4 linked regions of the Homo sapiens genome follow. The protein of the gene in region 1 purifies or fractionates together with the protein of each later gene. This does not show direct contact. Each region holds a gene or a part of one and is shown on either strand. Other genes may lie near its edges.

Region 1 (8,072 bases):
TGCTTGCTAATGTCTTTTTCAGTCTGTTTTGTAAAATAATACTAGTGTCAATGTCACGCCAACAGTACAGAGGGAAATACTAGAAATATATGGGAGTAATCATGAGCAGTTATCCCTAGAATAGAAACAAACAAACAAAAAAAGGACTATTACTTGTCTTGTTGCTGTTTATGTGGAGACCACAGGCTATGAATTGTCTTTGAGGTGAGGTCACAGGTGGGAAGGACCTTCAATATCTACCATAGGGGTGTTCCCTGTATCCCCCTCTGGCTGACCTTTGCGGTGGTGCCTTCAAGCTAGAGCGGGTTGTGGCCCATTCTTCTGGTGCTGTGAAAAAGAGAAAGATAGTAACACACACATGACTTCACAGTTACCAAAAATAGTCATTTAAGACACAATAGTTGACCGAGAAAAAGAAAACAAAAGATCTCAACACCGAACGCTAAAGCCTATTTTTTCCACATCGTGAGACCATCAAAAAAGTGTGTGTATATAAATGTGTACTGTGTATTTATTATGTGTTAGATTTAAATGCCACAAAATAGAAAGAGGAGTATCAATGTAAACCCCTGCCCATAAAATCTTTTTACATAGAATTCTTAAAAATAAATAAATAAATTGGATATAGGAAACCAGTAGTCCTTAGCCCTTGAATAACTTGAGAATCACCTGGAAATATTAAACAATCAAAATAAAAGATAACTAACACCTGCTCTCTGTCCCCCAAATCTACTGATTAGAAAACTCTATGGGCTGGGACCTACGGTTTGGTATTTTTCAAATACTCCCCAGATGATAGTTATATGGTCCAGGGTTGAGATCCATTGTGTTAAATTGTATAGAGAAAGTGAGAGACAAGCAGAATATAGAGTAGAAAAAACCTTAAGCAGCAAAATCAGTAAACAAAACAAAACACAAAGATATCAGTTTTTCCAAGTAAACAACTCAGTAAATAAAGAAGTATTAGTACACCAGGAAAACTCCATTTACCTGCTAATTTTGGCTAGGTTCCAAAACATTGAGGGTAGTAGAAATCTATTATTCCAAAAAAGCAAGAAACAAGTAACCAAGCTTTTGAGTACTGTGGAAAATAGCTATTGTAAAATCTGTGTCCCCAGAAAAGAAATGCAATTCTTCTTTAAAATAACTCAATGTTGGCTTTATGGTGACATTTTATGTGATTCCAGCAACTAGGTTATTTTGGTCTCTCAATCAGAATTTAGTTCCTCATCAAGAGCAGATTTCATGCATGGGTGTGTAAAAGGAGGTGCAGACAAAGGAAAGAAGGTTACTAGAGACGCATAGATATTGATAATTGATATATAAAAAAATGGAAATATTAACTGGGAAACAATTGCAGATTGAGGGCAACTAATGTAGGGCATTTGCCCCCAGATAGTTCCTCCGATCATAAGAATTAGTTGAGAAAGACTACTAGAAAAGCATAAAAAATTTCAATTGTACTCATTATAATATAGAGCAAATGAAAACAATCTACTATGTAGAAAAATGATCAAAAGTTTATCATTGTTGGGAAAAATGGCACTTAAGTGGACAAATATTAGTTTTTTGAGAATATTCTCACCAGGGCATTATTATTACAACTGATACCTGATAATAAATAAAAAATTATATCTCTTTCACTGTTTAGTCTTTTATAGGATATAAAATAGGAGTAAGAAAGAAATAAATATAACAAATGTTCCCATTGCTCAAAATACAGGTTTACTTGGATCAGAGGTTGGCATACTCTGGCCTGTGAACCAAATTTGGCCAGCTGATTGTTTTATAAATAGTTTTACTGGAACACAGGCATGCTGTTTATTTACATATTGTCTATTGCTGCTTTCACGATACAAAGGAAAAGTTCAGTAACTGTGATAGAGATTATACTGCTTGAAAAGCCTAAAATATTTATACTCTGGGCTTTTACAGAAAAAGTTTACAGATCTGTGCTCTAGACCATGTTGTTTTTGGTGGGAAAATGCAGATGTTGGTCTTTCTGATGTAATCTTTTGAGGGCAGGAATTTATCCCCAAACCATTTGACTTTATCAACATAAAAATGAAAAGAATTCCATGTATTTGCTTGATTGGAACTAAATAAAACTGTTTTTGGTGTACTCAAAGGGAAAACACATTCAGTGTGTGCAAGCTTGAAAGTACCTTCTTAGCCTTATGTAAAATGAATATTTACACCACGTTTATGAGATAATCCAGGCTATATCATTGTTTTTGTCCTCTGATGGTAAAATGTATCCCAATTTATCATGGTTTTTAACAAAAAGAATGTACTACTTTTTGCTCCAATTATTCCAGAGTGTTAGAAATCCCTGGGTTTCACTCTACAGGATTTAAGAGCTGAGACAATAGAGGCTTCAAGTTTTCCCAGGAAATAGAAGTCCCAGGTCCTTTTTTAGATTCTGAATGTTCCTGAAAAACAGCTAAACAATCATGAGCGGAGTGACAGAATACTTGTCACATACACTCCCAGATTTTTTCAGAATTTTAAATTGACATAAACCTAGGGACTTGCTACAGAGGACATAAGTGTTTAATAACTACTCATCAACTTGGCTTCAGTTGACTTTTTCTAAATCTCTAGGGCAGTTAATTGATGAGCTAAAACTCTTCATTTCCTAAATGTTAGCCAACATTAGAATAGGGACTGTTGCTATTCACTGTTGTTTCCCAAGTGCCTGGGAGAAATTCAATGCCTAGTTAGGGCTGAATGTAGTGAAAGGTTACATGAAAGAAAGGATGGATGAATGAACAAGGGAACTATGCAGAAAGTTCCAGTGATAATTCAAAAAACAGAAACAGTTGAGCTAAAGAAATTTAACATTTATTTAAAAAACTCTTTAATTAGAAATCTTATATATTTGTTATAGAGTTAAAGATCAGACTTCTTACTCAAAAGGGTTATCTAAGTATCAAAAATATTTCACTATTGAATTCAATGAAGTAATCGTAGTGCGATCTCATTATTAAAAAGTACAAAAGTATCATATTTCATGGCACAAATATGTGCTCTTTTATAACGCTCTGCTTCTATGTGAATTAATACTATGCTCTTTCTCCTTGCTCAAGGCTAGGAAAATGGAAATTATTGTTAGTTCATGATACTTGTACGTGGAAAAGTAAATCGCCAGCCAAAGTGATTTCCTATCCAAGCAAAAGTAAGTTTCTAATTTTCCAAGATTCCATACCATTAGCAGAGGAAATTAAGGACTTATTTCACTTAATTCAGACCTTGCTTCCATTGTTTACATGTTCTTGGTAACAATAGCAAAGAGAGATCAGGAAAAGTATTATTTTTATTTGTGTCCATCTTTATCTTTCCTAATATCAGAATGTTTATGTATAGTTACACATTTACAATTGCCACATGATAATGCACGTCAGTTTTTCTTAGTGAAAATATGTTCTTTGGATTGAGATTGGAGAGTACTGAACCAATGAACGTTTTTCCAGTGCCACCATAGAGTGTGTCATTGAACTTTATATGGTTGGCCAAGCCCCTCATTGCTCACCAGCGATATTTAGGCCTCTGGATTTCTTCACTGCAAGTACCACATATAGAAGGGATTCTAACCTGAGTCCCATGGAACCTTGAGCATGGAAGAGGCCCAAACATAGGGAGAGACAAATCATGACTGGGTTCCTCATGATGGGAGTTTCTCTGAAATTTGAAGTTGTAAAGACCCACGAATGAACTTAGAATTTATCTGTCCTCTTGGGTCTCTCAGTAGACAAGCAGATTCTAAATATTTAAAGCCTTCCTACGAATTTTAGAGTCCTGTTTTTTTCTAGTCCCATGGTGTGGTCTAAGATGTCATTTAAAAACTCATTGCATCCAGTGAAATTTAGAAATTTCTTTATCCTTTAGGGAAATGATAAAATAAGTAAGATTCTCTCAATATCAGGATCATTGTCACATGAGAAGCACTGGCTAGGCTATGAATTAATCCAATAACAAATTCCTCCTCAAAAAAGGTACCAAATAACTATACGCCAAATTGAAATTATGGAATGGGTTACATAATTGTGAATCTGAAAATAGCAAATCAGGATATGAGAAACAGAAGTTAAGTGACTTGATCCAATTGCCACCCTTTTTTGGCTTCCAATTCAGGCTTTAAAGTATCATATATTATAAGAAATATTAGATAAATTTATATTTATTATATGAATAATAAAGCATCACTAAACACATTTTTTATTTATTGAAGATCTCCTATATGCCAGTTACTATACTATGTCCTGCATATAAGGACAGTTTAAGGGGCCCATAAAAGACACAGGAAAAAATGAACCTGAAATTTCATAGGTTATGACACAATTTTAATTGATGTTTTAAGAAAATGCTGGGGAAAGCACAGGGAAGGGAGGTCTAACTTTCATCATTCAGTTGAACTTGCATTGAACTCTAACATTTAATCATCTCAAAGAAGAGATTTTCTGAGCAAATATACTTAGTAAGAACACAGGTGCTGTTTAACTTATCTAAGAGAATTCACTTTCTTTAAAGACTTTCCTGTGTTAATTATTTTGTATTATCTGGCCTTGTTTCTAAACTGGACTCTAAGATCTATGAAAGGAGAAATCGTCTACAGTGGTAGACACTGAATAAGAGCAAATAAGAATATTTGTAAGCTGCATATAAATAAATGGTGCTACTAAATAAAAAAGGGGTTTCAAACCAATTATGCAAAATAAGTAAAATAGAACTTTTCAGAAAGGCATTATTAGCAATTAGGTTGTCATGTTGCATGTATACAGTATATGTCAATATTTCTTTCAAAAGTTCTATCTGTTTTTTATTAACTTAGGCTGCTATTTTACCCAGTGAATCAGGTTTTACAGACTGCCTAGAGTGCATCTCTATTTCATGGTAGTCAGCGTCACTGAGGAACATTTGACTGTGATAGAAGAATGTAAATTACCTAGGTAACTCCTGTGCATTAAATATTACTGTGACTTCAAAAGTTTCTGTATCTCAAATACTGTGCGAAATGAGGCCTATTAAGTGCTATGCATTTGTCAATGTGTTCTTATTTCTGCAGTGGGACCAGGTACCTTGGGGAGCATTCACAGTGGGAAAGAAAAATCTGGATGATTTTTAAAGTTGCAAAACTGTGTTCTCTGATAGTTCCAGAGATACTGAGGTAGTTGGGAAAAACATGAAGCATAGGAACGAGGGGTCAATTCAGGAAAAGTTGACATTATTTAAGTATCTGGAAAGCAAACTTTTAATGTTTATCTTTCAGGAAGTAGTTTTAAAATGCCACCTAAGAGGAAATTAATATTAGAGATCAGTTCAGAAAGGATAAAGGAGATCATGGAGCTTACTGAGTGCAGTCATGATACTCTTATTTTGCTATCTTAGATAGCTATTTGTCTGTATATCTGAAATATGGAAAAGAATCTAAAAAGAAGCTTGTTAAACCCACAGCAAAACGAAGGAAGCTCATGCGATTTTTGGTACACTGTAAATCAATATGCAAAAATCACAACTAAAGTAGGAAACCCAAGTTAGTCTCTACCATTACAAACCGCTAGTGTTTTTGCTTTGCAAATCATATAATGGCATTACGACATGGTTGATTAAAATTCATCCTGGCTTTGAGCCACTCAGTTTGTTCATCTCAGCTAAGTTTCTGATGTTTCTAAGGAGTATTATTCTATTTGAAAGCACCTTTCAAATATATGTTTGTTGTTTTGAGGCTATTTAATCCCAAAGAATATGTTAGGTTAGATGTTTTGCTATTGTTGCAACTCACTATTATGATAGCATCCATTTTATTTACTTAATGTTTAAACACCTATCATATTTTAAAAAACTCTATCACAACTTTGAAGGGCCTATCACAGTGCTAGGTGTTTTGTGTATATTATTAGCAAATATCACAATTTTCCTACAAGGTAGCTGTTGACACTACCTTCTTTTTAAAGCTGAGGAAACTATGACTCAGAAAGTTTAGTTGTTGGGAAAATACAGAATTTTTGTCTCTAAATGTCTCACTATCTATTCACCAACCCTTTCTCTTTTTCCTCTTTTTTTCCCCCTATAAAACAAGACTTAATTTATTTTACTTCCCTTAAATTATATAATTAGTATTAATTATATAATAATTAGTGTTGATTCCAACAACAATTAATTAGCCAAAAAAAATGAGATTTACTGTAGTTTTAATTTTGTTAGCAAGAATGTGGGCCGCTTCAACTGAATTTGTGAAGGTGCAAATCCAAAGTGGAATGCAGAGTTCTCTGCACTGCTCTGAGCATTTTAAAATATTAATGGAAATTTGCAACTCAATGGCTCAACCATTTCAACTGTACAACATGTATTCCCACTATTTGTAATTATATAGTTTATTATTTTAAGATGCAGAGGGTAACAGAAGAGGGAGAAATATGGGTGACCAGCATCTCTTTTCACAGATGAACATGGTGCATTATGTTCCAAGAAAAAGGGTTGCTAACTTTGAGTTCACCATCATTTGTCCTCTCAGAAAATTCAATCAGCTTCTGGGAAGCATTTACAACTTTTATCACTCTTTCAAATTTTTAATTAGATGTCCTCTGTTAGAAAAAATGTATCACTTGGGATAATCCATTCAGAGAGTAACAAAGGACTTAGCCTTTCTTTGAACTCCATTCTCAACCCTAAAATCTTACCATGCACATGGCAGGCACTCAGTAATCATTTACTCAATAAATTAATTATATTTAAATATTTTGCATCTTCCTTTCAGACCCATAGGCTTCCCTCAGATGGATTCCTTCACTTTTGAACGGTAGTTCCCAGAGTCTTACAGATGTTCTGCATTTGCATTACTATCCTGCCTTTTTCTTGTTGAAAGATTCCTTTCTGCAATCTTAAAACCATTTTTTAACTTTTCTGTATTTTTATATTATTGTGCTTAATATCTCCAATTTACTTTATGTATATACCTAATTTCCATATTATAACCTGGTTTCACAATTTTATCTTCTGTGCCTAAGCTTAGTTGGTTTGAATTACTGCTATATTCTAATTGTGAACTCAAGGAAGCTTAAAAAATATTCCTGACAAACTTCAGGCTGTGCCAAGAACAATATTCCAGGTAGTTTTGCATGTGATGCATAATTTTTATCAGCTTCTGTTTTCCCAGGTGAGGCCACTGTGATTTGCAATATTAGAAAGAATCCCCATAATTCAAACTTCTTGGTGGTAGTGGTGGTGTTTTCAAATTGCCTATTCAGTTCTAGTCCCTGTCCTATACATTATTGTATTTAATAAATTGACTCAATCTGTACCATTTTATTTCTAATTATCATCCATTAATAATTGAAAATTATATATGTCATTAAAATTTAAACAAACATATTTTATGCTTGACTCTGCTGTATAGTATCCTGCAGCTGTAGAATAATACAGGCCAGTGGTTCTTAACATTTTTAAATAAGTGTGTGTCTATCTTATTGCTATGGAGTTAATAACTCATTTAAATAAAAAGGAGACAAAGAAGCTAGCTAGAGAAAGGATTTTCAAAATGGAACATACAGAAAAAATGGTGAATGATAATTTGGCACAATGTAGAAGGTTATCTGACTAAAGTCTAAAACGTACTTTCATTATTGTCAAATAAAATGCTGAATCATTCAAAAGACTGCGGAATTCAGCTAGAGGCTTTTTGAAATGCACATAAGGAGTTTATAATATGAGGAATAACAGAAGGGAGAATAAAAATGGTGGTATAAAGTAATATGGTATAATTCTCTTCTCAAAGAATTCCAATACTCCCTTTAACTCAGTGAAGAAGGTAGGCTTGGTGACAGAGCTTCATAGACAGAGATTACATTTGTAGTTACCTGATTGTCTTACTCCCCCTACATTCTTCATTTTTCTACCTAAGAGCAGAAATGAGCCATAGTTATAGCAATTAGAGAAAATCAGGTTTTCAGCTCTACAAATGTTAATCTTTCTGTATGACCTACTCTAAGTGCAAGTGCCTGTGTTTATACCACAGTGTGCCTTTCCCTGCTTTTCCAGGTTGATAAATTGGCTCCCACCACTTGTGAAAGATC
Region 2 (7,912 bases), on another chromosome or scaffold:
TCAGCACTTCAAAGTAGGGGAGAGGTTGAGTCCACAAGAGCAGGGAGCCAAGGACTCTCGTTGCCTCATTCTGGTGTCCAACCTTATCCTCCCCAACCTGCACACTGAGTTTCCTGGGGCCTGGGCCCAGTAAAGTGTCAAAATGGCCAACCCATGGCTAGAACTAGAAAAGTTTACCTCAGAAACTGGGCGATTCGGGCCATGATTGCCCCGGCCCCAGGCTGCAGCACATTTCCTGTGGACAACAAACTTTCATTCAGTGCCAGGCGGTGGTGTTCTGGGCACTAAAGTATAGCTGTGAAAACCAGAGATGAGGCATTCCAGATCTTTCTTCGGGACACTAGCCCTTGGCAGGCTCACTTGCAACTCTGGAACATCAGGGTTTGGGGCAGGGAGAGCCAGCCATACAACAGCTTGTCCTGGTCATCCACCAGCTCCTGTCCCTGAGGGTCCCACGCTCACTTGCCCATGCACCCAGCTTTTCCAAATCAGCACAGATGGGCAGGTTGTCTGCCCTTAAAAGTGAAATGGGAGTTTCTGAAAATGCACATCTCCCCAGGTATCCTCCTGTGAGCCCTGCTGTCACCCCAGAGAGGTGGAACAGTGATTGCCGACCTAGGGGTGGCATCCGCTGGATAAGACTCTTGCCATATCATATTGCTGTATTTCAAGGTGAGGGGTGGAATAGAGGGCTGGACTGAAGATTGTGGGGAAAAGAAAGATCAGATTGTTACCGTGTGTATGTAGAAAAGGAAGACATAAGAAACTCCATGTTGATCTGTACAAAGAAAAATTGTTTCTGCTTTGAGATGCTGTTAATCTGTAACTTTAGCCCCAACTCTGTGCTCACAAAAACATGTGCTATATTGAATCAAGGTTTAAGGGATTTAGGGCTGTGCAGGATGTGCCTTGTCAACATATGTTTGCAGACAGTATGCTTGGTAAAAGTCATCGTCATTCTCCATTCTCTATTAACCAGGGACATGATGCACTGTGGAAAGCCGCAGGGACCTCTGCCCAAGAAAGCCTGGGTATTTGTCCAAGGTTTCCCCCCACTGAGACAGCCTGAGATATGGCCTCGTGGGAAGGGAAAGACCTTACTGTCCCCCAGCCCGACACCTGTAAAGGGTCTGTGCTGAGGAGGATTAGTAAAAGAGGAAGGCCTCTATTTCCCGCACATCCCTGGGAACGGAATGTCTCGGTGTAAAGCCGACTATTGGTTCTATTTACTGAGATAGGAGAAAACCGCCCTGTGGCTGGAAGCGAAATATGCTGGCAGCAATACTGCTCTGTTACTCTTTGCTACACTGAGATGTCTGGGTAAAGAGAAACAAAAATCTAGCCTACATGCACATCTCAGCACAGTACCTTCCCTTGAACTTATTTATGATGCAGATTCCTTTACTCACATGTTTTCCTGCTGACCTTCTCCCCACCATCACCCTGTTCACCCCGTTTTGCCTGAAGAGGGCCTGCCCCTCCACACCTGTGGGTATTTCTCGCAAGGTGGAGACGAGAAACTGAGAAAAGAAATGACACAGAGACAAAGTATAGAGGAAGAAAAGTGGGCCCAGGGGACTGGTGCTCAGCAATTGAGGACCTACACCAGCACTGGTCTCTGAGTTCCCTCAGTATTTATTGATCACTATCTCTACTATCTTGGCAAGAGGGATGTGGCATTATATACCATTACTATAAGGTAATGGTGGGGAGGGGGTCAACAGGAAAAAATGTGAGCAAAGGACTCAGTGTCATAAGTAAGTTTAAGGAAAGGTGCTGTGCCTGGATGTGCACATAGGCCAGATTTATGTTTGACTTTACACAAACATCTCAGTGCAGTAAAGAGCAGTATTGCCGCCAGCATGTCTCACCTGCAGCCATAAGGCGGTTTTCTCCTATCTCAGTAAATAGAATGTATGGTTGGGTTTTACACCCAAGACATTCCATTCCCAGGGACAAGCAGGAGACAGATGCTTTCCTCTTATCTCAACTGCAAAGAGGCCTTCCTCTTTTACTAATACTCCTCAGCACCGACCCTTTACGGGTGTCTGCAAAGAGGCCTTCCTCTTTTACTAATACTCCTCAGCACAGACCCTTTACGGGTGTCGGGCTGGGGGACTGTAAGGTCTTTCCCTTCCCACTAGGCCATATCTCAGACAATCTCAGTGGGGGGAAACCTGGACAATACCCAGGCTTTCTTGGGCAGAGGTCCCTGCGGCCTTTCGCAGTGCACTGTGTACCTGGTTAATCGAGAATGGAGAATGGCGATGACTTTTACCAAGCATACTGCCTGCAAACAAATGGTTAACAAGCCACATCCTGCACAGCCCTAAATCCCTCAAACCTTGATTCAATACAGCACATGTTTCTGTGAGCACAGGGTTGGGGCTAAGGCTACAGATTAACAGCATCTCAAGGCAGAAAAATTTTTCTTAGTACAGATCAAAATGGAGTTTCTTCTGTCTTCCTTTTCTACACAGACACAGTAACAGTCTGATCTCTCTTCCTTTCCCCCACACTGCCGCACTCCCCTTGCCGAGATAGTGAAAATAGTAATCAATAAATACTGAGGGAACTCGGAGACCGATGCCGGTCACCTGGGCCCACTCTACACTTTGTCTCTGCGTCTTATTTCTTTTCTCAGTCTCTCCTCCCATCTGACGAGAAATACCCACAGGTGTGAAGGGGCAGGACCCCTTCAAAGGTCAAGGCCATGGAGGTTCCCCCAGTGAAAATTCGGGGCGGGGAGGTGAGGAGAGCTCTGGACGAACGGAAGAACGGGGAAGGCCCAGCGCAGGGCCTGAGTGGTTCGCTCACCGACACAGATGTCCCCCAGCTGTTCCGGCCTCAGATTCACGTCCTTGAGAACCGCGGTCATGACTGCCGAGAGAAGCTCGTCGGGGGTGGTGTCCTGCAGCAGAAAGAGCAGCCGCAGTGACCCCCACTCCCCCATGCCCACCCCAGGGAGACAAAGCGACCACAGCTGGGTGCGGAGCTGCCTCCGGCGTCCAGGATAACCAAACATACGAACCGGACCCCAGCCCGCGCCGGCGTCTTCCCACACTCGGCGCCCAGACCCTCGGGCCTCACCTTGAAGCCGCCGCGGCCCGCCCGGCAGATGGCCGTGCGCCGCCCGTGCACCACCACCACGTCCGCGGCCGAGGCCTGCGGGGCACCGCTCAGGCAAGGCGCGGCCTGCGGCATCCAGCCGGAATCGGCCGGACCCCTCAGGTGGCCCAGCACTACCTGCAGCCTCTGCATTGCGCAGGTCAACCCTGCAGACCAGCCACCAGTCCGGGAACTGACCGCGGAGTTAACAGACAGCCGTCCGCACACGCGCAGAACCACATCTCAGCCTCCAAGGCCTCAACTCCGCCCACAGCTCTGCGAACAGACGCGAGCGACCCTCCAAAAGTCCCGTCCACCTCCAGCCTCAGCCAACCACAAGGAGAGTCGGCCTGGGAACCCGCCCCTCCCCGCCACCGCCTACCAAGCCCTCTATAGGAGGGCCCACAGGCACCGCCCAGCCGAGCTTTCCACTCAATGCCCCGCCTACCTTGGCCTACCGCAGCCAACCAGAAGGTGTATCTTTACGAATCCCCGCCCAGAAATGCAGACCGGAAGTCTTTCCACCTTTTGTAGCCAAACCCGAGACCTGACCCCCAAATCCCTGTCTCCTGCCCGCAGCCAAACGGAAGGCTGGGCAGCCAGGACCGCTTACTGCTTGGGGGCTGGAGATGGAAGCCGAGGCTCTAATTCCTCTACCCACTTCCTAGGAGGCTCTGCTATCCCTCCGGTCCCAGTACCCGAGCTGGGGGACCTAAATACTTCCGAGACGCCCGAGTCCTGCTCCGACGTGGTTGGGCTTTCCCATTCTTTCGAGAAGACAGGGAATTTGGGCTTCCGGGCTGGCCGGGAGAACAGATTTTACAGACATGCGGGGTGTGACAAGCTCTCTAACTGGAGAATGAACATTTCACACTTTTACCAGTTTTACACCCAATTGGAATGATTTTATTAGTGCCCATTTCCCGTGCTAGGCTGGGGTCTCCACCAAGGCAGAGAGGTACCATGTATCCGGGGAGCCTGCGACACCCTTGACACTTAGTAGATGATCAATAAGTACTTGTCGAATGAGTAAATGAATGAACCAGGGCTCCCCAGGTCAGGACTGTGTCCCTAAACCTAAAGGGCAAGGCCACGTGCCCCCTTGACTCCCAATAGCAGGGCCATGTCTTCACCTGAGACCCTGGAGAGTAGTGCTGGGCTTTCCACAGACACCAAAGGACAGGGTGCCTTGTGCTCCCCAACCTAGTGTCATGACGTCCCCAACCATTTCGAGGGCAGGGCCACGGCATGCCTCAGGCTCCAGAAGGCAGCTGTCCGTTTCCCACTCCCACCTCGGGGAGCACAGCAGGGGTCTTCCCATACCCCTACTGGCAGGATTGCGTGTTCCCCAGAGACAGTGGAGGGCAGAGCTGGTGCCTTCCCACTTGTCCCCTCCTCGCCATCCTCGAGGGCAGGACCGTATGAACCCCTCAGATTCCTCCGTGGAAGAACTGTGGCTCCACCAGATCCCAAAAAGCAAGGCCCGTTTCCTACAACCCCCGAAGGAGGGTCGTCCTCACTCCGCCGCCAACCTACTAGCACCATCACCAGACCCTCGAGGGCGGTGCCGTGGACCTCTCCAGATCTCAAAAGGCAGATTCCTACTTCTTACGCCCCCCACATCACCCGCCTCGAGACCTCAAGGGTAGAGGTGGGCACCCCCGCCTCCGCACTTTTGCTCGGGGCTCCAGATTGTAGGGCAGGGCGGCGCTTCTCGGAAAGCGAAAGCCGGCGGGGCGGGGCGGGTGCCGCAGGAGAAAGAGGAAGCGCTGGCAGACAATGCGACCCGACCGCGCTGAGGCTCCAGGACCGCCCGCCATGGCTGCAGGAGGTCCCGGCGCGGGGTCTGCGGCCCCGGTCTCCTCCACATCCTCCCTTCCCCTGGCTGCTCTCAACATGCGAGTGCGGCGCCGCCTGTCTCTGTTCTTGAACGTGCGGACACAGGTGGCGGCCGACTGGACCGCGCTGGCGGAGGAGATGGACTTTGAGTACTTGGAGATCCGGCAACTGGAGACACAAGCGGACCCCACTGGCAGGCTGCTGGACGCCTGGCAGGGACGCCCTGGCGCCTCTGTAGGCCGACTGCTCGAGCTGCTTACCAAGCTGGGCCGCGACGACGTGCTGCTGGAGCTGGGACCCAGCATTGGTGAGGACGTCCCCTTCCTGGCCTCGTACCTGGGGGGTGAGGAGGCTGACTTTCCGCGGCCTCAGCATCCTGTCTCCCATGGAGAGACCCCATTTCCTGCCTCGGGGGCCCGAAGAAGCCTGCAGAGGGAGAACCATGCGGGTCCCGTTCCTTCTTAATAACCGGTCGCGGTTATTAAGAAGGACTGGAGAAAGGTCCGGATAGGCGGAGATGGGAAGGAAGCAGCTTAGGCAGAGGCTTTCAGGTAGGGCCAGGAGTCAGAATCAGGCTTCTGTGGGGGCATCTGGGCTGTTTCAAGTAGAGCAACAGGACAGGTGGGGCGATTGACAGTGGACTGTCTTAGAAACCTCAAGTCCTGGGGAAATGCAGCCCTTCTTTCTACTCACTGGCACTTACATAATATACATGCATAGGCGTTGGATACAGCCGCCCACAGACAGGCACACCTTGCTGAGTTGGAATCACTGCACCATAACCAGTGGGTCTCCTGAGCCTTTCTGGCATGCCCAGCCCCTTGCTCACATCTGCCCTGGATCCCAGAAGAAGCAGACCTACCTTGGTACCATTCTTAGGATCCCTAGGAAGGGACAGAGATACAAACCTGACTTTGATGGCCTTCCAGAAAGCCAGAACACCACTGACATCCCTTTGGGTCAGTTAGAGCCAGTGGGAGCTCAACTTCTCAGAGCCGTTGAGCTTCGCGTGGCACCAGTGAACTGGGGAAGCCCTCTAGAACAACCCAGCCAGAGGAGGTGGGACAGCGGCTGGATCCTGACTGTGGGTAAAGAGGTAGGCACTCCCAGGGAGGCTGCTTTACTCTGTCTCTTCCCCACAGAGGAGGATTGCCAAAAGTATATCTTGAAGCAGCAGCAGGAGGAGGCTGAGAAGCCTTTACAGGTGGCCGCTGTAGACAGCAGTGTCCCACGGACAGCAGAGCTGGCGGGCATCACCACACTTGATGACCCCCTGGGTAAGGGTCCAATACTGTTCCCATGGGACAGGTGGAATAGGACATTGTGGTGTTAAGAGCATGGGTGTTTGAAGCAGATGGGCTGTGAGACCTTGGGCAAGTCACTTAATCTTTCTGAGCCTCAGTTTCCTCACCTAAGAAATGGAGATAATAGTCCTACCTCTGGATTGCTGTGAGATGCTCATGAAATAATGTCTGTCTCGTGGTTAATCCAGAGCTTAGCCCCTGAGGTACTCATCTTTCCTCTCCTGGAAAGGGCACTTTCTCTGAGGAGTATCATCTTGGGAAGGGTGCAGGGCCCAGGGTTGCCTAGGCAGGGGACTCTTGGCTGGATCCCTCCCAAGCCTTCCCATGGAGCTCTGACCACCACCCTTGTGCTCTGCACCCAGGGCATATGCCTGAGCGTTTCGATGCCTTCATCTGCTATTGCCCCAGCGACATCCAGTTTGTGCAGGAGATGATCCGGCAACTGGAACAGACAAACTATCGACTGAAGTTGTGTGTGTCTGACCGCGATGTCCTGCCTGGCACCTGTGTCTGGTCTATTGCTAGTGAGCTCATCGAAAAGAGGTTGGCTAGAAGGCCACGGGGTGGGTGCGTGGATGCATGAAGCCCTGCCCTGGGGTCCAGATACTGGGCATCTCCTCCTAGCTGTGCACTGTCCAGCCTGGGCACAGTGGGCCCTTCCTGAAGCTATTCCCAGGGGATATGCTGAACTAAGTTGCCACAGGACCTGCAGCCTGCCCACTCTCCCCTAGGTGCCGCCGGATGGTGGTGGTTGTCTCTGATGATTACCTGCAGAGCAAGGAATGTGACTTCCAGACCAAATTTGCACTCAGCCTCTCTCCAGGTAAGCTCAACCCTGCTCTGGCAAGAGAATGAGGGAATGTGTAGGTGGGGCCTCTGGATTGTCAGCCTTCCCTCCCCAAGGACTGTGGATGCAGTACCAAAGAACTGCTGAAGATCTCTGCACACCTGAGCATGTGTGCATGTGTGTGCCTTTTTGTGTGAGTGAATGTGTGCCAGGGGTACTTAGATGGGGGATGGCTGTTGTTAACCCTGGGGTTGAAGACTGGGCTTGTCCCACCATGGGGCAAGGGCCTGATGCCAGCATGGCACCCCTTGGCTTGCAGGTGCCCATCAGAAGCGACTGATCCCCATCAAGTACAAGGCAATGAAGAAAGAGTTCCCCAGCATCCTGAGGTTCATCACTGTCTGCGACTACACCAACCCCTGCACCAAATCTTGGTTCTGGACTCGCCTTGCCAAGGCCTTGTCCCTGCCCTGAAGACTGTTCTGAGGCCCTGGGTGTGTGTGTATCTGTCTGCCTGTCCATGTACTTCTGCCCTGCCTCCTCCTTTCGTTGTAGGAGGAATCTGTGCTCTACTTACCTCTCAATTCCTGGAGATGCCAACTTCACAGACACGTCTGCAGCAGCTGGACATCACATTTCATGTCCTGCATGGAACCAGTGGCTGTGAGTGGCATGTCCACTTGCTGGATTATCAGCCAGGACACTATAGAACAGGACCAGCTGAGACTAAGAAGGACCAGCAGAGCCAGCTCAGCTCTGAGCCATTCACACATCTTCACCCTCAGTTTCCTCACTTGAGGAGTGGGATGGGGAGAACAGAGAGTAGCTGTGTTTGAATCCCTGTAGGAAATGGTGAAGCATAGCTCTGGGTCTC
Region 3 (8,072 bases), on another chromosome or scaffold:
CCACTGCAATAGGCAATGAGAAGGGGTGACAGCCGCAAGTGCCAACTGTCTACAAGGTAGCCAGGAGTGTGACACCAGGCCCATATGGTGGCCGCAGGGGTGGCTGGGTTGAAAGGTTGCTCTGGCCAAAGCGCACCGGCAGCTGCTTCACTGGAGCAAGAGTGTTGAGCTGGCCCCTGCCCCAGGAGTGACATCCTGTCCCCAGGGAATGAGAGAGAGAGGGCCTCAAGGAGCAGACGGGCTCTGGGGGTCTCAGCCTCTGTCCCCTGCACCCATCTCACAGCTGCCGCGGACATCTATGGAAGCCTGGGGAGGCTCCCAGGCCCACCTCCTAAAGGCTGGAGGCTGGCTGTCAGCCAGCGCCATCACTGAGGGCACAGCAGCCTCTGGCCTGGTTGTTCATTAAAATCGCGTGGGGAGGAAAACATGCAGGTCCGAGCCCCACCCCGGTCAAATACATCCGAATCCAGAAAAACGAGCCTGAGCACAGAAAGCTAAAAAATCGCAGTGAGCCTGCACACAGAGCCGCACCCAGCAGACACACGTAGGGGCTAAGAGCAGGCTCTGGAGTCCATTTGAATCCGGCCTCAGATGCTGATGAGCTGTGTGGACTTGCACCAGTTACTCGATCTCTCTGACCTTTGGTTTCCTGGTCTGTAAAGCGGGGATGAGACTAGCAATGACACTGAGGTCGGGGCAGAGATGAGAAGGGGCGATGCGTAAACACGCCTAGTCCACAGTGAGCGTTCAGTATTAATTAGTATTACTGCTTTATGCGTTGTGTTTTGAAGGGAAGGGGCAGGGAACAGCCATCAGTGATCTGGGGCCATTTCTACAAGTTAAGCTGGGGTAGGCGTCCTCCCTTCACTCTCACGTTCCCAGCAGTGATCCCAGGCCGGGCCCAAGGCTGGCGTGGGGGTGGAGCTCGGCTCCTGCTCCTCTCACCCTGCAGGAAGACAACAGCAGGGAAGGCCGCCAGCTGCCCCCTAGTGGCCAAGGGCAGACGCGCACTGAATCGCTTTCACCTCATCCTGAAATCCCTGCGCCGGCCCCCACCTTTCCACTCGGCCTCTTTGCAGGTCCGTGGGTCCCAGAGGTTCTGGCTGGCAAGGCACCAACTACAAGGGTTTCCTGATGGCTAATGGCATTTCGGAAAGCACCAAGCTGACTGCAATATAAAGTTCAAATAGGGCCGGTGGGGGGCGGGGGTGGGGAGTGCCAGGCACCCGGGCCAGAACATTTGAGTCTGTTTTCTCCATCCAGCCAGTTCATTTCAGAAAGGAAGGCGCGCCCCAGGAGCGATGGCAGGTTCTGCTTTCCTGTCTTACACAGGTCTGTGCTCTCGTGGGTGCTTGTGATTCTGGAGCTAGGAAGCTCAACTTCTCCCTCCGCAGCAGCAGCCTAGAGTTGTGCTGATGGACTGAGAGCCGTGTCCCAGTCCCTCTCCAGCAAGGGCCATCTGGGAAAAGCCACCTCATCCCCAAGACGCACAACAAAGTGACCCCAAACCCTATTTCCCTCCATTGCTGAAGAGCTCCATGGAGGAAACAGCTGGAGAGGGGACAGGGACAGAGGGAGGTGCTGGTGGCCTGGAGTCTCTACTGTTGACACAAAATCTTTTTATTCCCCATTTGCCATCTTTTCCACAAACCTCTCAGGTACAGATCGGAAGAAAGTGCATATAAACCCTGCCTTATTTAACCAGGCCCACCGCCTCCGGGACAGCCCCTGGGGGAGCCCCATCCCGCTAGGTAGAAGGGAAGGCCACACCAAGTGCTGAGTGAGCCACCCAGACAGCAGGTGCTCTGGGAGGGAGGGGCGACAAGGGGTAGGGGAAGGCTTCCTGGAGGAGGGAGAGGCCTGGCCCTGAGAGACAGGGGGCGGTCCCTGAAAAGGGAGAGAGAAGGCACACTTCTCCGGGAACCAGGCCCCAGCACCTGAGCATTGGACCCAGGCGGCCAGGAAGAACACAGGCCAAGGCGGGGGCCTGAAGCAGATGGGACTGTGGGAGCTTCAGGGAAGCAGCCCTTCTCGCCTCAGGTCTGGAGTCTCAGAGGACCCTCCTAGGCCTCCTGCTCGGCTGGCTCCAGAGGATGCAGAGGGCAGACCATGCCTCCCTAGGTCCCACCGCTGGGACTGCAGAGCTTGGCTGGCATCGCCAAGCGGCTGGGGCCTCTCCAGCAGTGTCAGGAGCTGGGCGCTCGCTGGCCAGCACAGAGTCGAACTGCAGCCCCCAGAATAATCCAGAAAGGGGCATCTGGGTGGGGCTGCAGTGTCGTGGGCTCCTCTCAGAGGCCATCCAGGGCTTGCTGGACTCGGCTGTCCAGGGAGGTGGCTGAGTGGATGGAGACGCCGGGGGCACCGATGCTGGTTTCCAAGCAGTCAAAGCCACAGCTGGTCAGGGCCTGCTTCGTGGCCTCCACTTCTGGCTGCTCCAGCCCTGCGGGGAGGGAAGGCAGGTCACCCTTGACAACTCTCCGCTCCGTGGGAGAAGCTCATCATATTCAAGGCAAAAGCCCAGGCCTTCCTGCTGTGCCTTCCTGGCTGTGACCCACCTGAGCCAACAGGCCATAAAGCCCAAGGTTACCTGCAGCCCCTCCGTGCACTGGAATGCCCAGCCTTGCACCCCCAGGGGTTTAGGGAGCAAGAGTTAAAAACATGGGCTCTCAAGTCACAGGACTTGGCCTTGCCTTGTACTGGCCGTGTGGCCTCAGACAAGTGACTTCCCCTCTCTCAGTCTCAGTCTCCTCATCTGGGAATGGGGCTAATGATGACTCCCCGTGCAGATCTCAGGGAGGCTTAAAGGAAATAACGCAGGTAAAGTGCCTGGCACAACACCTGGCACAGCGGGCACACTCCAGAAATGTCAAGTCCCACCATCGTCATGGGCTCTGAACTAGGAACCAACAGTTGGGGTTGGCTGGAGTGAGGATGTGGCCACCTCCTGAGGCCTGGGAGCCATCATGGAGTGTGAGGGGATGTCTGGAGCCTAAGGGGGCTCAGTGCAAAGCAGAGGGGAAAGGAAGGATGAAGAACAGAGAGGAGGAGATAAAGACAGAAAGAGAAAGAAGGAAGGAAGGAGGGGACAAGGAGCACAGAGGGAAATGGAGGCAGGTGGGACCGGTTAGTGCCTACTGTAGGCCAGGAGCGAGCCTGAGGGCAGAGGTAGGTGTCAGGTGGTTAAACACTAGCAGAAGCCCCTTGCCAGGCCCCCAGGCACCAGGGAGCTTCCTAAGCCAAGCCCATTACTCGGTCTTCCTCTTTCCCCAAACCAACGGGAAGGAAACCCTTTCGTTTTGTAGCAAAATCAACCGCATCCTGACCACATCAAGGGTACAAGTGGGGCAAGGTTAGGCAGACGTGGAGAGTGACAATGCCCTGGTTACTTCCCAAGCTTGTGCGGACAGCCCCGATGACAGGAGCCCCAGCCACAGCCCAGCCCTGCACCAGGCTCTCTAGGTGCACTTTCCTGCTTGAATCTGGGCAACGATCTTGCAAGCTAGATACTCTCATCCTTATTTTACCAATGAGGAAGCAAAGACCAGAGGTTAACTAACTTGCCCAAGGCCACACAGCGGAGCTGAGACCTGTTTCCAGGTCTCTTTTTCCTTTCAAGGGAATTCTCCAGGTGGACCCCTCTTAGGAGCCCAGGCTGGCAGCCTGGCCCACCTACCCCCGGGATACCTGGCTTGAGGAGTGTGATGCCACAGCCACCACCGCCTGCGCCAGTCAGCTTGCTGTGAAGTCCGCGGGCCCTGGTCACCTGGCAGAGCTGGTCCAGAGAGGCGTGGCCCACGCCGAGGGCATTCAGATGGTGCTGGTTCATGTCAATGAGCTCCTAGGGGAGAAGGTTCCATCTGTTCCCACTTGGCCTGCCTGAGGCCAAGGTCCTATGCCCACCCCTGAGCCTGCCTCGTCCATCTGACAGTTGTTGGCTGGAGACAGCCAACGGCTTTGCCTACCTGGCACCCTGGCCCTCTCCACTTGTAAAAGAATCCTTCTGCCCTGCAGCATTTCTCACGGAGCTTGGGTAGAGCTGAGCATACCTTCACCACAGCAGTGAGCACATATCCTAGGGCTGGTCACAGAAGCCTCTGGCACTGGTGACTGATCAGGGATGGGCATGTGGTCCAAGCTGGGCCAATCACAGCCCTCCCAGGGTTTCCTCTGCCCCTTCCCACTAGAGCTGCTAAAATAATTAACTTCAGACACAAGTCGCCAAGATGACCTATCTTGCCACATGATCAGATATTACGTGGCAGATGGACAGATTCCCGACACATTGTTTCAGCCCCTGGATTGAGCTATACCTGAAGCCATTTACCTCTGGTCTTCTCAGTTGAGAGCCAATACATTCCCTTTCTACAAAAGTCTGGTTGAAATGGATTTCTGCCATTTGCAAGAGAAAAAGTTTCAAATAACATGCCTCCCTACAGCTGCCTTGGGGACTGGTTTCAGAATAAGAACTAGGTGTAACTCCAGCAAGGCCATAAGCAGGGAAACAGCTGTTTGTCTAGGTTTCTTCAGTTATGCAGGATAAACTTCCTGCTCTTTAAGGATCCAACAAGATGCATGTGGATGAAAAAATAAAACTTCACAGCTTCCACTGCCCAGGCACCCAGTAGTTAGATTTCATTTACCAAACACCCACAACGTGCTGGGGCTCTAAGGATGGGTGCCCAGCCACGGTCCCAGCCATCAGGAAGTAAAAACCATGGGATTTGGAGTCAAGTAGGCCTGTGTTCGAGTCTCTGCTCTGCCCCTTTTTGGTCGTGTGTCCTTGAGCAAGGTCTTCTGCACTGGGTCTGTCTCCTGCTTGTAAACCGGGGTCATAAGAGTATCTGCCTCAGCAGGGTGTGGTGGCTCACGTCTTTAATCCCAGCACTTTGGGAGGTCGAGGCGGGTGGATCACTTGAGGTCAGGAGTTTGAGACCAGCCTGGCCAACATGGCGAAACCCCATCTCTACTAAATATACAAAAATCAGCCACGTATGTTGGCGTGTGCCTGTAATCCCAGCTACTCAGGAGGCTGCGGCACGAGGATCATTTGAACCTGGGAGGATGCAATGAGCCAAGATTGTGCCACTGCACTCCAGCCTGGGCGACAGAGCAAGATGACTCTGTCTCAAAAAAAAAAAAAAAAAAAAAATCTGCTTCTTTGCCCTGAGACGAAACAAGGTGAGTTTTCTGTTCAATGCCTGGCACGAGATATGTGCTGTTAGTATTTTTATGGGTACGTTAGCATCATCCCCACTTTACAAAAGGGGAAACAGAGGCTCAGAGAAGAAGTGACTTGCCCACGATCACTGAGCTAGTAGGTACCAAGCTGGCACTGGAAGGCGGGTCTGCCTGACATGAAGCTCCTGTCTACCCTGCCTCTGAGAGCACCCCCTGGCATTCCTCACTTCCGTGTGAAGCTCTGTTCCGGGGCACCTGGATTGCCTGTATACCAGGAGTTGCCAATCACTGAGGCATCTCTGCGGAGGCCCACCTAGCTCTCCCGCATGGGGATGGCCGGTCAGGCAGGGTTGGAGTGGCCCTCCCCAACAGCCTGCCTCATACCTCGCTCTGCGCCAAGCTCACCATTTTTGACAAATGAGCAGACAGGCATGATGGCCTGGTGGCAGCCCCGGGTGCCTCTCACCAGCCTGATGGGCTGGATGTGAGAGAAGACTTCTGGGGGCCGCTCTCTGCGCCTGAGCACCAGGTGTCACGTTGCCGAGGCAGGTTCCAGACACCTGTCACATTCTGATCCAAAATCTGTCAAGGATCAGATGACAGGTTGTGACACAGGAGAACAGTTCGCTGGTTTGAGTGCAAAGCTGTCCAGGAGCTGAGCTGCACATTTCAGCGGCTGCCACAGCCAAAAATACACACAATGTATAATCAACGTGCTGTTCTGTGGCATTCTCCAGGGACTCGACAGGGTGTATTTTAGGCAGTATTCTATCATTATTGATTTCCTACTCGGGGGGACTGTGTTCCCTCCTTTCTATGTGGAAGGAATTGAGAGCTAGGAAGACAAAGACTGAGGGAATGAGGGCCGAAACACAGGAATTCGATGGAGGCGCTGCCCTGGCACATAGTAGGTGCTCATGACAGATCTGTTGAATAAAGGGACAGACCAGTCCGTCGGCTGGACCCCTGGCTCGGCCACTCACTAGCTGGATAACCTTGGGGGAAGTCTCTCTTCAGGCCTCAGTTTTTACATCTGTAAAATAGGGATAAGACACCTACTTCACAGGGAGGTGGGTGTGAGGATCAAGTGAAAAGAATCATTTGTAAAAGGCTTGCTTTAGTGGCAGCTTCCACTCAGCACAGGGGCTACAGACTCGAATGCCCACGGGGGACCGGGAGACACCAGGCAATGACTACAGAGTGCGGGGCGCGGGGAGGGACTGTGGTGACATGGAGACCGCACGCCCCTCTCCTGTCCCTTCACTGACGGCTGCTGCACAGCCACGGCAGCTAGGGGCCACCCGATCCTCTCATTCTGCAAGGGCAGCCAGATGGCTAACAGCCCATATTCACCAGGCCAGGTGGACTGTGTCCAGGGGGAGCCTGGGCTCTTTGGTTCCCTAAGCTCATAGCACACCAGACATTGTGCTTGCGTGTCACCCATGAGACTCCAAGCATTTTTTGTGTGTGTGTGAGACAAGGTCTCATTCTGTCGCCCAGGCTACAAACTTGACCTCCTGGGCTCAAGTGATCCTCCTGCCTCAGCCTCTCGAGTAGCTGGGACTACCGATATGTACCGTCATGTCTGGCTAACTTTTGTATTTTTTGTAGAGACAGAGTTTCACCACATTGCCCAGCCTGGTCTCGAACTCCTGGACTCAAGCAATCCACCTGCCTTGGCCTCCCAAAGTGCTAATACTACAGGTGAGCCACTGCGCCCGTCTAATCTGAGCATTCTTAAGACACTCTAGCGAGGCCACACGTCCAGCAGAAGTGGAGCTGGGATTCACACACAGGCCTGATCACACCCAAAGTACCAGGTCACAACCTCTACACTAGAATTATGCAAATGGCAGTGGATGGGGTTGCAATGATGAAAAAACAATGTTAGGATCTGTCTGACCCAAAGCAGGCAGTTGACAAGTAGTTGTTGAATGCACCCATGAAGTTAGCAATAGCAGGAGAGTGACCAAGAAGTCACCCCTGCACCGACAGAGCACTCTGCATCAGCCACATCCCCATCTACCTACGTGGGCCAGAGCTCCTTAGAAGTGACCCAAACCTGTTTCCATTGCACTTAGCACGAGCCAGGCCCTGGCCTCCCTTGCACTCTCCCAATTACTCGGAATCACCCAGGAAGAGGCCTGAAAATAAGATACGCTTATATGGCACGCACAGACCTGGGCCCAGCTGAGAGCATAGGCCAGAGGCAGGTCCTGACCTCTATGTGCTAGCTTCCGGGGGATTCTGAGCACAGCCAGATTGCAGAGCCACTGCCTTGGACAGTGGTGTGGACTCAGTAACCCCGGTTCCTGCAGACAGGCTCTTACTTCCAGCACGAGGTACTGCTCCGGGGCTGGGGCTTCCCCCATCTCTCCCAGCACGCGCTCACACTCCAGGGAGATGGCATCTATTGAGGTCAGGAGGGGGGCCACGATCTCTGGGAACTGGAGAAAAAAAGAAGGAACGGCTGGTGAGGCCTGGGGGCAGGCAGATGCAGGACAGCTGCCCCAGCAGTGGGGTGGAGGGAGGAGGTGTTCACACAGCCCGTGCCCATCCTCTGGGGAAACCACCTCTCTTCTGAGCCTGTTTTTTTGCCTTCCCAGCTGCAAAGTCAGTGTGTCTAACGAGCCCGACCACTGTCATTTTCCTGGCCAGGCTACGGGCACGGACGGTACCTTCTTTTCTGCCAAAACCACCTCCCTAAGGGCCCCCACCACCCACCACACCCCCTATAACCCATCAGCCAGAGGGAGACCTCGAAAATCCAGATGTAATTGTGTCCTGGCCTTCCTGAAACCTGCCCAAGAAGGGAACAAGAGTCACCTTGAGCAGCCTGTTTCTGACGCCAGCCACAAGGGCCCTGGTATTGCGAGGGACTTTGGTGTTGGTCA
Region 4 (8,072 bases), on another chromosome or scaffold:
GAAAAGTTATGCAGTTTCCCCAAGGTCAAGGGAATGGTAGAAAGGCCATAGGCTTGTGGCCGGGCACAGTGGCTCACGCCTGTAATCCCAGCACTTTGGGAGGGCGAGGCGGGAGGATCACGAGGTCAGGAGTTTGAGACTAGCCTGGCCAATATGGTGAAACCCCATCTCTACTAAAAATACAAAAATTAGCTGGGCATGATGGTGCGCACCTGTAGTCCCAGCTGCTTGGGAGGCTGAGGCAGGAGAATCACTTGAAGCCAGGAGGCGGAGGTTGCAGTGAGCCGAGATCGTGCCACTGTACTTCAGCCTGGGCGACAGAGCAAGACTCTGCCTCAAAAACAAAAAAAAAAAAAAAAAAAAGAAAGAAAGAAAGGGCATAGGCTTCGGAATCAGACAATGTGGTCGTGTGACTTTGAGTCTCAAACAGAAAATGCAGATACTAATTAACTAACCACAGGTAGTAACTAACGCTTGTTTCACAGACTTATCATAAAAAGATCAAGTATGTGAAAGTCCCTTTTAAATTAATTGTAAAGCACTGTTCAAACTGTTATTATTTTGGCAGAGCTGCACTTTGGGGAGGACCACTTATTTACCACATACAACCTGACCTACGGTCGCTTCCAAACACAGGCCATTTAATCCTGCCTGCTATGACAAGAGGACTTCACACTAGATTGGACTTTAAATTATTAACGGTCTTATTGCTATACTAATTTAGCTGTGGTTCTGTGAAATCACCTGGGGGAAAGAATTTTAATAAAAATTCAATCTTCAGTCCTCAATTTAAAAAGGGCTTCCTCTGGGCCAGGAGTGGTGGCTCACGCCTGTAATCTCAGCACTTTGGGAGGCCGAGGTGGGCGGATCACAAGGCCAGGAGATCAAGACCATCCTGGCTAACACGGTGAAACCCCATCTCTAATAAAAATACAACAAAAAAGGGGAGGTGGGCTTCCTCTGAAAAATAAAATGTAAATGTAGTTGATTTTAAAATGTGCTTTTAAAAAAAAAAGTCATCCTAAGTTCAGGCTAAAGAATAACCAGACCGTCAGTTAAAGGCTTTCCTTTTTTCAGCTCTGATATATTCACATGGCTATGGAGATGATTCCATTTGATTTCAGAACTTCATAACACTCATAATCTTTGATATTTTTAATTCATAGTCTCCTGTATGGCTAAGACAACTTCCTATATATCTGATCACTTCTAAAAGACATTTACGGTACTCTTTCATTCACTCAAAAGAATTTTATTGAGGGCCTCAGACAAGTACTAGACACTATGCAGACACAAATTCATAAGACTTGGGCCCTGCCCTCTTGGAGCTTACAGTCTAATATGGCACAAAAAGAAACTTGTACAAGGTACTGGACCTGCAAATGAGGATCAGGGAATAAATGCAGTGACTTCAGATAGGGATAGATCATATATGGCCACACCATGATAATGCTTCACAGTGGAGATAGAATTTCAATAAGACAGAGAGAATTTCTTAGGGTTTTCACAAGTAGAACATGTTTTAGGAAGATGATACAACACGAGGAAAAACAAAGATACAAAAAAAGTTTTAGATGTATCTGACGGGAAGGGGATGGAGATTCTGGAGAAAAATAGATAAGATTAGCTGGAGCAATGCTTTATGAGGAAAATAATGGAAGATAAGGCAGGAAAGGCAGCTTGGAGCCAGAAGGAAGACACCATTATGCTCTTGGTCAATGAATGATACACTAAATGTGGGTAGTTCAAGGGAGATTCTTCTACAGTAGTGTTGCACAACATGGAAACAAGATTCTAAGTGTCCAGGAGTGTGATATGAGGGGCCTGAACTACAGGGTAGTTCTGGGAATAAAAATTAAAACATAGAGGGTAAAATACATCAGGAGGGAAAACGGAAATAACTTTAGCACTAATAGAGAGTAAGGTATTGGCTGGGCACAGTGGCTCACACCTATAATCCCAGCAGTTTGGGAGGCCGAAGCAGGTCACGCATTCAAGACCAACCTGGCCAACATAGTGAAACCTCGTCTCTGTCTCTACTAAAAATACAAAAAATTAGCCAGGCATGGTGGCGGGCACCTATAGTCCCAGCTACTCGGGAGGCTGACCAGGAGAATCGCTTGAACCAGGAAGGCAGAGGTTGCAGTAAGCCAAGATTGCGCCACTGCGCTCCAGCCCAGGCAACAGTGCGAGACTCCATCTCAAACAAACAAACAAAAAAAAAGAGTAAGGTATCAAAATTATTCTGAGCTGTAGTAGAGCTAGAAAAACCTAGAGGAGCTGATTCGATAACTGTAGGGGTGGGAGAGGATAGAGATAAGGAAATGTTCTTAAACATCCTTTGAAGGCTAAGGAAATCTAAACAAGTTTGAATTTTGCAGTGGTCTCTTGTAACATGAACTTCAGATTTTTTAAAAAACTATATAATAAAATGATACTCAAAGTTTATCTGACCTTCGTCCTTTGACCTTGGAAGAAATCACTGTAGTGTTTAAGCAAGGAAACCAGCACCATGTTCTCATCATACTTGATTAAGAAGTAAGGAAGAGCTGTGACTCCTTCTGTTTGACAAAGATTATCATATGCACACTCTAGTGCTTCAATCTGAAAACAGAAAACACGTTGTTATTCTCTAGAAAATTACATTTCTAGTTCTGGGCTAAAAACTAACTCAAAAAAAAGGTACCTTAAAACCAGAAGACTAGAAATGACTGATCACACTCCTCTTACTCTATTACAGCAAGTGAACATAGAAGTGCCTCCAAATAATACCACTTAGCTTTTATATAACACTTTCCAGGGGCATGGTGGTGTGTGTCTTAGGGGCACAAAGGGACTACAACATGGTAGTTCCCTAAGCTGTCAATCAGAGTTTTAGAGCGGTAACGAAACATTCTTTCTCTCCTATGATAACCCAACATGAATCTACCCCTGATGAATTTTACCCCGAACCTTTCCATAATCTTCAACAGCTTTACTGAGACATGACTAACATACCATACAACTCACCCATTTACTACTTTTTGAGACAGGGTCTTGCTCTGTCACCCAGGCAATCACAGCTCACTGCAGCCTCGACCTCCTGGGCTCAATCAATCCTCCTACCTCAGCCTCCTGAGTAGCTGGGACCACAGGCACACACCACCATGGCTCAGCTAACTTTTTTGGTATTTTTTATAGCGATGGGGTTTCACGATATTGCCCAGGCTGGTCTTGAACTCCTGAGCTCAAGTGGTATGCTCACCTCTGCGTTCCAAAGTGCTGGAATTACACTATAGTTGTGAGCCACCGTGCCTGGCCCAATTCACCCATTTAAAGTACATAATGCAATGTGCTGTTTGTTTTTTTAGTATGTTCACAGGGTTATGCAAGCACCACAGCAATAATTACAGAACATTTTTGTCCTCAATAAAAGAAACCCCATACCTGCCAGCAGTCAATACTCAGCCAAAATCCTTTTTCCTTACTTATATTTCCTCTTGGGAAATTAGTTCCACAAAACCACAACCTCGGATTTGTACGAACAACAACAAAAAAAATTTAATCAATAATGGCTGCTCCCTGAACAGCTCCAAGAGAGCTCCCTGAATGATGGCATCAGTATTCAGGGCTTTAGTGATTGATGTGTTTCAAGAATTCAAATCATCTTGACACATAATCTTTGCCTTAACAACAATAAGAATTCTCTAGTTTAGGGTCTCTGTTATACCAGCCTGATTATTTTAACTGCTCTTCTGGGAACCATCTCTAATGAACTTATTATCTATCCCAAATGTCACCGACTAACTCTGCATGTACTGCTCCAGGTAGAAAAGTTCTGCAACTTGGTACAAGGGTAGGAGAATGCCTTCTGTTTTGTTTCAAAGACTCTTTCCCAGACTATACTGCCTTATGTTTCCCCACATTGAAAATGAAGACCACATTTTGGTAAATTCTTTCAGTGTTTCAAAATATTCCTATAATTCCCCCTTACTGGCTTAGCATTTCACCAAATACCACTGAAAACCTGGAAAATTACTGTGCACTACATCTTCAAAATGACTTTACAGACCAGGCAGGGTGGCTCATGCCTGTAATCCCAGCACTTTGGGAGGCTGAGGTGGACAGATTGCTTGAGCCCAGGTGTTGAAGACCAGCCTGGCCAACATGGCAAAACCCCATATCTATTAAAAGACAAACATTAGCCAGGTGTGATGGGATGCCTGTAGTCCCAGGTGCTCAGGAGGCTGAGATGAGAGGATCACCTGAGCCTGAGAAGTTGAAGCTACAGTGAGCAGTGATCGTGCCACTGCACTCCAGCCTGCGTAATGGGGGTGAGACCCAGTCTCAAAACATATATAAATATATATACAAAAAAATGACTTTACAAACATTTTCTAAATAAGTCTGCTCCTAGTACCACCTTTGGAGGATTTCAGTTACCACGTCTTCATCCAGAGAAGTGCCTGTTTGTCTTTGGAAAGAACTACATAACTACTCTTGCACATTCAACCCAATTTTATGTGCATTTTGGTTATTTGTTGATACCTGTTTTAGTGAAAACCTTTGATCCAAACCCACTGGCCCCTGAATGAGAGGTAAACTCTCTGGAAGACAGAGGGCAGGATAGCAAAACCAATAGTAGAAGTGGTACTTCTTTAGATCCTAGAAAAAAAAGTATAAATAAGTTATTAGAATAGCACCATTAACTTAAGGTGAAATGCATCTATTAATGTAGCTTCTCAAGGCCAATTAAGATAGCAAAGCTATGCAAACAAAGTCTGTCCAGCTTATCAAATATCCTCATCCCCAACAGAACTCATGATCAAATAAAGGACTTTTGTATTCCCAAAATAGTCTCATATACCACCACTAATAATATGATGACAAACATAATATACTTTATTGACCACTTGCTAACAGAAAATGTGCAATATGTAATTGATATTATCATCATCATCCTTTAACCTACAAAACCCCCCTGGGAGGTATTTACTATTATCCCATTTTATAAACAGAAAACTGAATCTTACAAAGGGGTAAAAAACCTAAACAACAACAAAAAAGATGGCAAGGGGCAGAGAAGAGATCAGAACTCTGCTTCCAAAACTTAAGCTTTTTTCCACTGACCATAGATACTTAATGTACTATCTACAGAAGCACAACTTCCAAACAGTTACCATTCTCTTCACAATCAAATAAATTACATGTTATTAAGGAAGCTGTGCTATTCACATATGTATGCATGCCTGAAATAATACAATATTGCTTTTGTAAATGGCTTAGTGGATTTAAGTCAACAACTATCAAGCCCTTGCTATGTACAAGGCAAAACATAAGACACTGACAATAAGATGAATAAACCCCAGTCCCAGACACCAGGCAGCTCACTTTGTGGACAGAGCAGAGATAAAGCGAGTGCATGATTAGAGCCATGGAGAGGCTCTAAGTAGTAAGCTGGATGGGTGAATAGAAGAGGTTACATCTTCACGGGTATATCTGACCGATCCCCCACCAGGGTAGGAGATCCAGGGGAAAGGATTTGTGAGGCTGTCTTTGACACTGTTCCCACTCACGCTAATGGCTCTTGCTTCAGAATTCTTACAGCTTTTGGGGCCTTAATTAAATTCATGGTAGCATTCCAGACATATGTGGGTATTTGGCAGCTTGCCTACAAGCCTGTGACCACTGAATATGAATGCAGTTTATGTAGCTAATTAATATTTCTTCTTGAATCTTGCTAAGAATTAAAATTGGATGGTTGTTAGATGACTTTTTATTGAGATATAATTTACGTTCCATAAAATTCACCATGTTAAAAAGTATACAATTTAGTGGTTTCTTTTTAGTATAGTGATATGGTTGTACCATCATCACTATTAATTCCAGAATATTTTCATCACTCCAAAAAGAAATCTCATACATATTAGCAGAGACTCCCCATTCCCCCTCTTCTCATCCCCTGGCAACCACTAATCTATTTTCTGTCTCTGTGGATTTTCCTAGTCTGGACTTTTCATATAAATGAAATCATACTAGATGAGTTTTAAAATGTAAATGTATATGTAATCATGTGTACAGATGAGAAAGTCTAATAATTGTAATCTCTGCGGTCTCTAATTCTGCTATTCATTGATCAACTAAGAAAAAATTCCCTCTTCACAATGGCAAAATGAACTGCAAAGCTGAAATTAATGAACTGTCTAGTCCTATGAGTCCTAAAAAACAGCAGAAGGAAAGCAAAAACACCTCCAGAGATTATTTTCTCTTCTTTGTACTTAAATGATTTGTCATAACCGATATTTAGTAAAAGGTTAAACAATTCAAGATGAAGAAACTCACAAAATCTTTTTTTTTTTTTTTTTGGAGACAGTCTTGCTCTGTCACACAGGCTGGAGTGCAACGGCACGACGATCTCAGCTCACTGCAACCTCCACCTCCCAGGTTCAAGCAATTCTTCTGCCTCAGCCTCCCGAGTAGTTGGGACTACAGGCTGCCATGCACAGCTAATTTTTTTTTTTAATTTTAGTAGATACGGGGTTTAACTATGTTGCCCAAGCTGGTCTCAAACTCCTGAGCTCAGGCAATCCGCCTACCTCGGCCTCCCAAATCGCTAGAATTACAGGCATGAACCACTGCACCCGGCCGGACCTCACGAATTCTAAGAAACTTTATCAGGTCATTTTCAAAAGTCAAAAAGCTTGCATTTCTTAGGATTCTTTTCAGGATAGAAATGACCTCCATTAAATTAAACATAAAGTCCTTGGTGTCTGAAGATTTTAAAAAGTAGATACTTACAATTTTTTTTAAGTCAGGCTAAGAATGCTCAGTAAACAAGGCAGCAAGACCAACACACATACTGACTCTAGGCAAACCTTAAAACTTTAAGTAAGAGCTAATGTTATTTTTCTCATTAAATGCAAACTGTCAGCATGTTCTACTATGAGAATTCTTGGTACAGAAAGCGTACTGACGTTCAAGTAACTAGAAATCTTTAACTAGCAATGCTTACAATTTATCCCAGTAAAGAGCCTACAGGCTGCATGCGGTGGCTCATGCCTGTAATCCCAGCACTTTGGGAGGCCGAGGCGGGCGGATCACGAGGTCAGGAGATCAAGACCATCCTGGCTAACACGGTGAAACCCCCTCTCTACTAAAAATACAAAAAATTAGCCGGGTGTGGTGGTGGGTGCCTGTAGTCCCGGCTACTCAGGAGGCTGAGGCAGGAGAATGGCATGAACCTGGGAGGCAGAGCTTGCAGTGAGCCGACATCGCACCATTGCACTCCAGCCTGGGTGACAGAGCGAGACTCCGTCTCAAAAAAAAAAAAAAAACTACAGAATTACCCAAACGTATAGACAGATTATTAATGCCAAACTGAGCCAAGTAATCAGACAAAAAATTTAAACATTTTTCTCTCTCCTCCACTATTACATAGAAAGCATTATAACTTGTTAGAAAATGTGTTCCTTGTAGATAGCCACCCACTGGCCTTGTTTGATTGCTATCATACCCTCCTTTGCCTTGGGCAATAAATCAGAGGCCTCCCCTGCATCTAGGAATCTAGGAGGAACGGTGGGAGGTCGGGGAAGGAAAACTTGCCAAAAAAAGAAGTGGGAAAGAGGATTAATGTCCAAAGCTGATGATGCTGTGGTGAAACAGCACACTTAATACACAGCAACATTACTGTGTTTATATGCCCGCTCCAAAGAACTTATTCTAAAGAAGTAAAATGAGCAGGAGAAAAGATCAATATGGCTAATATTATATATTTTTCAATATACCACAGTATTTTTTTTTTTTTGAGACAGGGTCTCACTCTGTTGTCCAGGCTGGAGTGCAGTGGTGCAATCATGGCATGCTGCAGCCTCAATCTCCCAGGCTCAGATGATCCTCCCACCTCAGCTCCCCAGTAGCTGGAACCACAGGCAGGCGCCACCACACCCAGCTAATTTTTATATTTTTTGAAGTGACAAGGTGTTGCCCAGGCTGGTCTCAAACTCTTGGCCTCAAGTGATCCACCTGCCTCAGCCTCCCAAAGTGCTGGTATTACAAGCATGAGCCACTGTGCCCAGACTAGCATTTTTTATAAC

Evidence for each region.
Region 2: the proteins of KHDRBS2 (region 1) and ACAA1 purify together in Homo sapiens (affinity purification with mass spectrometry; 2 studies listed by BioGRID and IntAct, with this or other methods). This does not show direct contact.
Region 3: the proteins of KHDRBS2 (region 1) and MVK purify together in Homo sapiens (affinity purification with mass spectrometry; 2 studies listed by BioGRID and IntAct, with this or other methods). This does not show direct contact.
Region 4: the proteins of KHDRBS2 (region 1) and ATG7 purify together in Homo sapiens (co-immunoprecipitation; 3 studies listed by BioGRID and IntAct, with this or other methods). This does not show direct contact.

Annotation. Positions count from the first base shown.
Region 1 is NC_000006.12:61,680,734-61,688,805, forward strand, and holds part of KHDRBS2 (KH domain-containing, RNA-binding, signal transduction-associated protein 2), read right to left. Parts: intron 328-8,072; coding exon 230-327; 3' UTR 1-229. UniProt on the Homo sapiens protein: RNA-binding protein that plays a role in the regulation of alternative splicing and influences mRNA splice site selection and exon inclusion. Binds both poly(A) and poly(U) homopolymers. Phosphorylation by PTK6 inhibits its RNA-binding ability.
Region 2 is NC_000003.12:38,133,775-38,141,686, forward strand, and holds the start of ACAA1 (3-ketoacyl-CoA thiolase, peroxisomal), read right to left. Parts: upstream 3,354-7,912; 5' UTR 3,262-3,353; coding exon 3,091-3,261; intron 2,912-3,090; coding exon 2,818-2,911; intron 236-2,817; coding exon 178-235; intron 118-177; exon of another isoform or gene 1-117. Other genes in the region: myeloid differentiation primary response protein MyD88, read left to right, coding at 4,927-5,254, 6,090-6,224, 6,614-6,818, 6,983-7,074, 7,358-7,512. UniProt on the Homo sapiens protein: Responsible for the thiolytic cleavage of straight chain 3-keto fatty acyl-CoAs (3-oxoacyl-CoAs). Plays an important role in fatty acid peroxisomal beta-oxidation. Catalyzes the cleavage of short, medium, long, and very long straight chain 3-oxoacyl-CoAs.
Region 3 is NC_000012.12:109,590,794-109,598,865, reverse strand, and holds the end of MVK (mevalonate kinase), read right to left. Parts: coding exon 8,005-8,072; intron 7,626-8,004; coding exon 7,509-7,625; intron 3,839-7,508; coding exon 3,685-3,838; coding exon of another isoform or gene 3,674-3,684; intron 2,441-3,673; coding exon 2,289-2,440; 3' UTR 741-2,288; downstream 1-740. UniProt on the Homo sapiens protein: Catalyzes the phosphorylation of mevalonate to mevalonate 5-phosphate, a key step in isoprenoid and cholesterol biosynthesis.
Region 4 is NC_000003.12:11,309,876-11,317,947, reverse strand, and holds part of ATG7 (ubiquitin-like modifier-activating enzyme ATG7), read right to left. Parts: intron 4,645-8,072; coding exon 4,528-4,644; intron 2,605-4,527; coding exon 2,455-2,604; intron 1-2,454. UniProt on the Homo sapiens protein: E1-like activating enzyme involved in the 2 ubiquitin-like systems required for cytoplasm to vacuole transport (Cvt) and autophagy.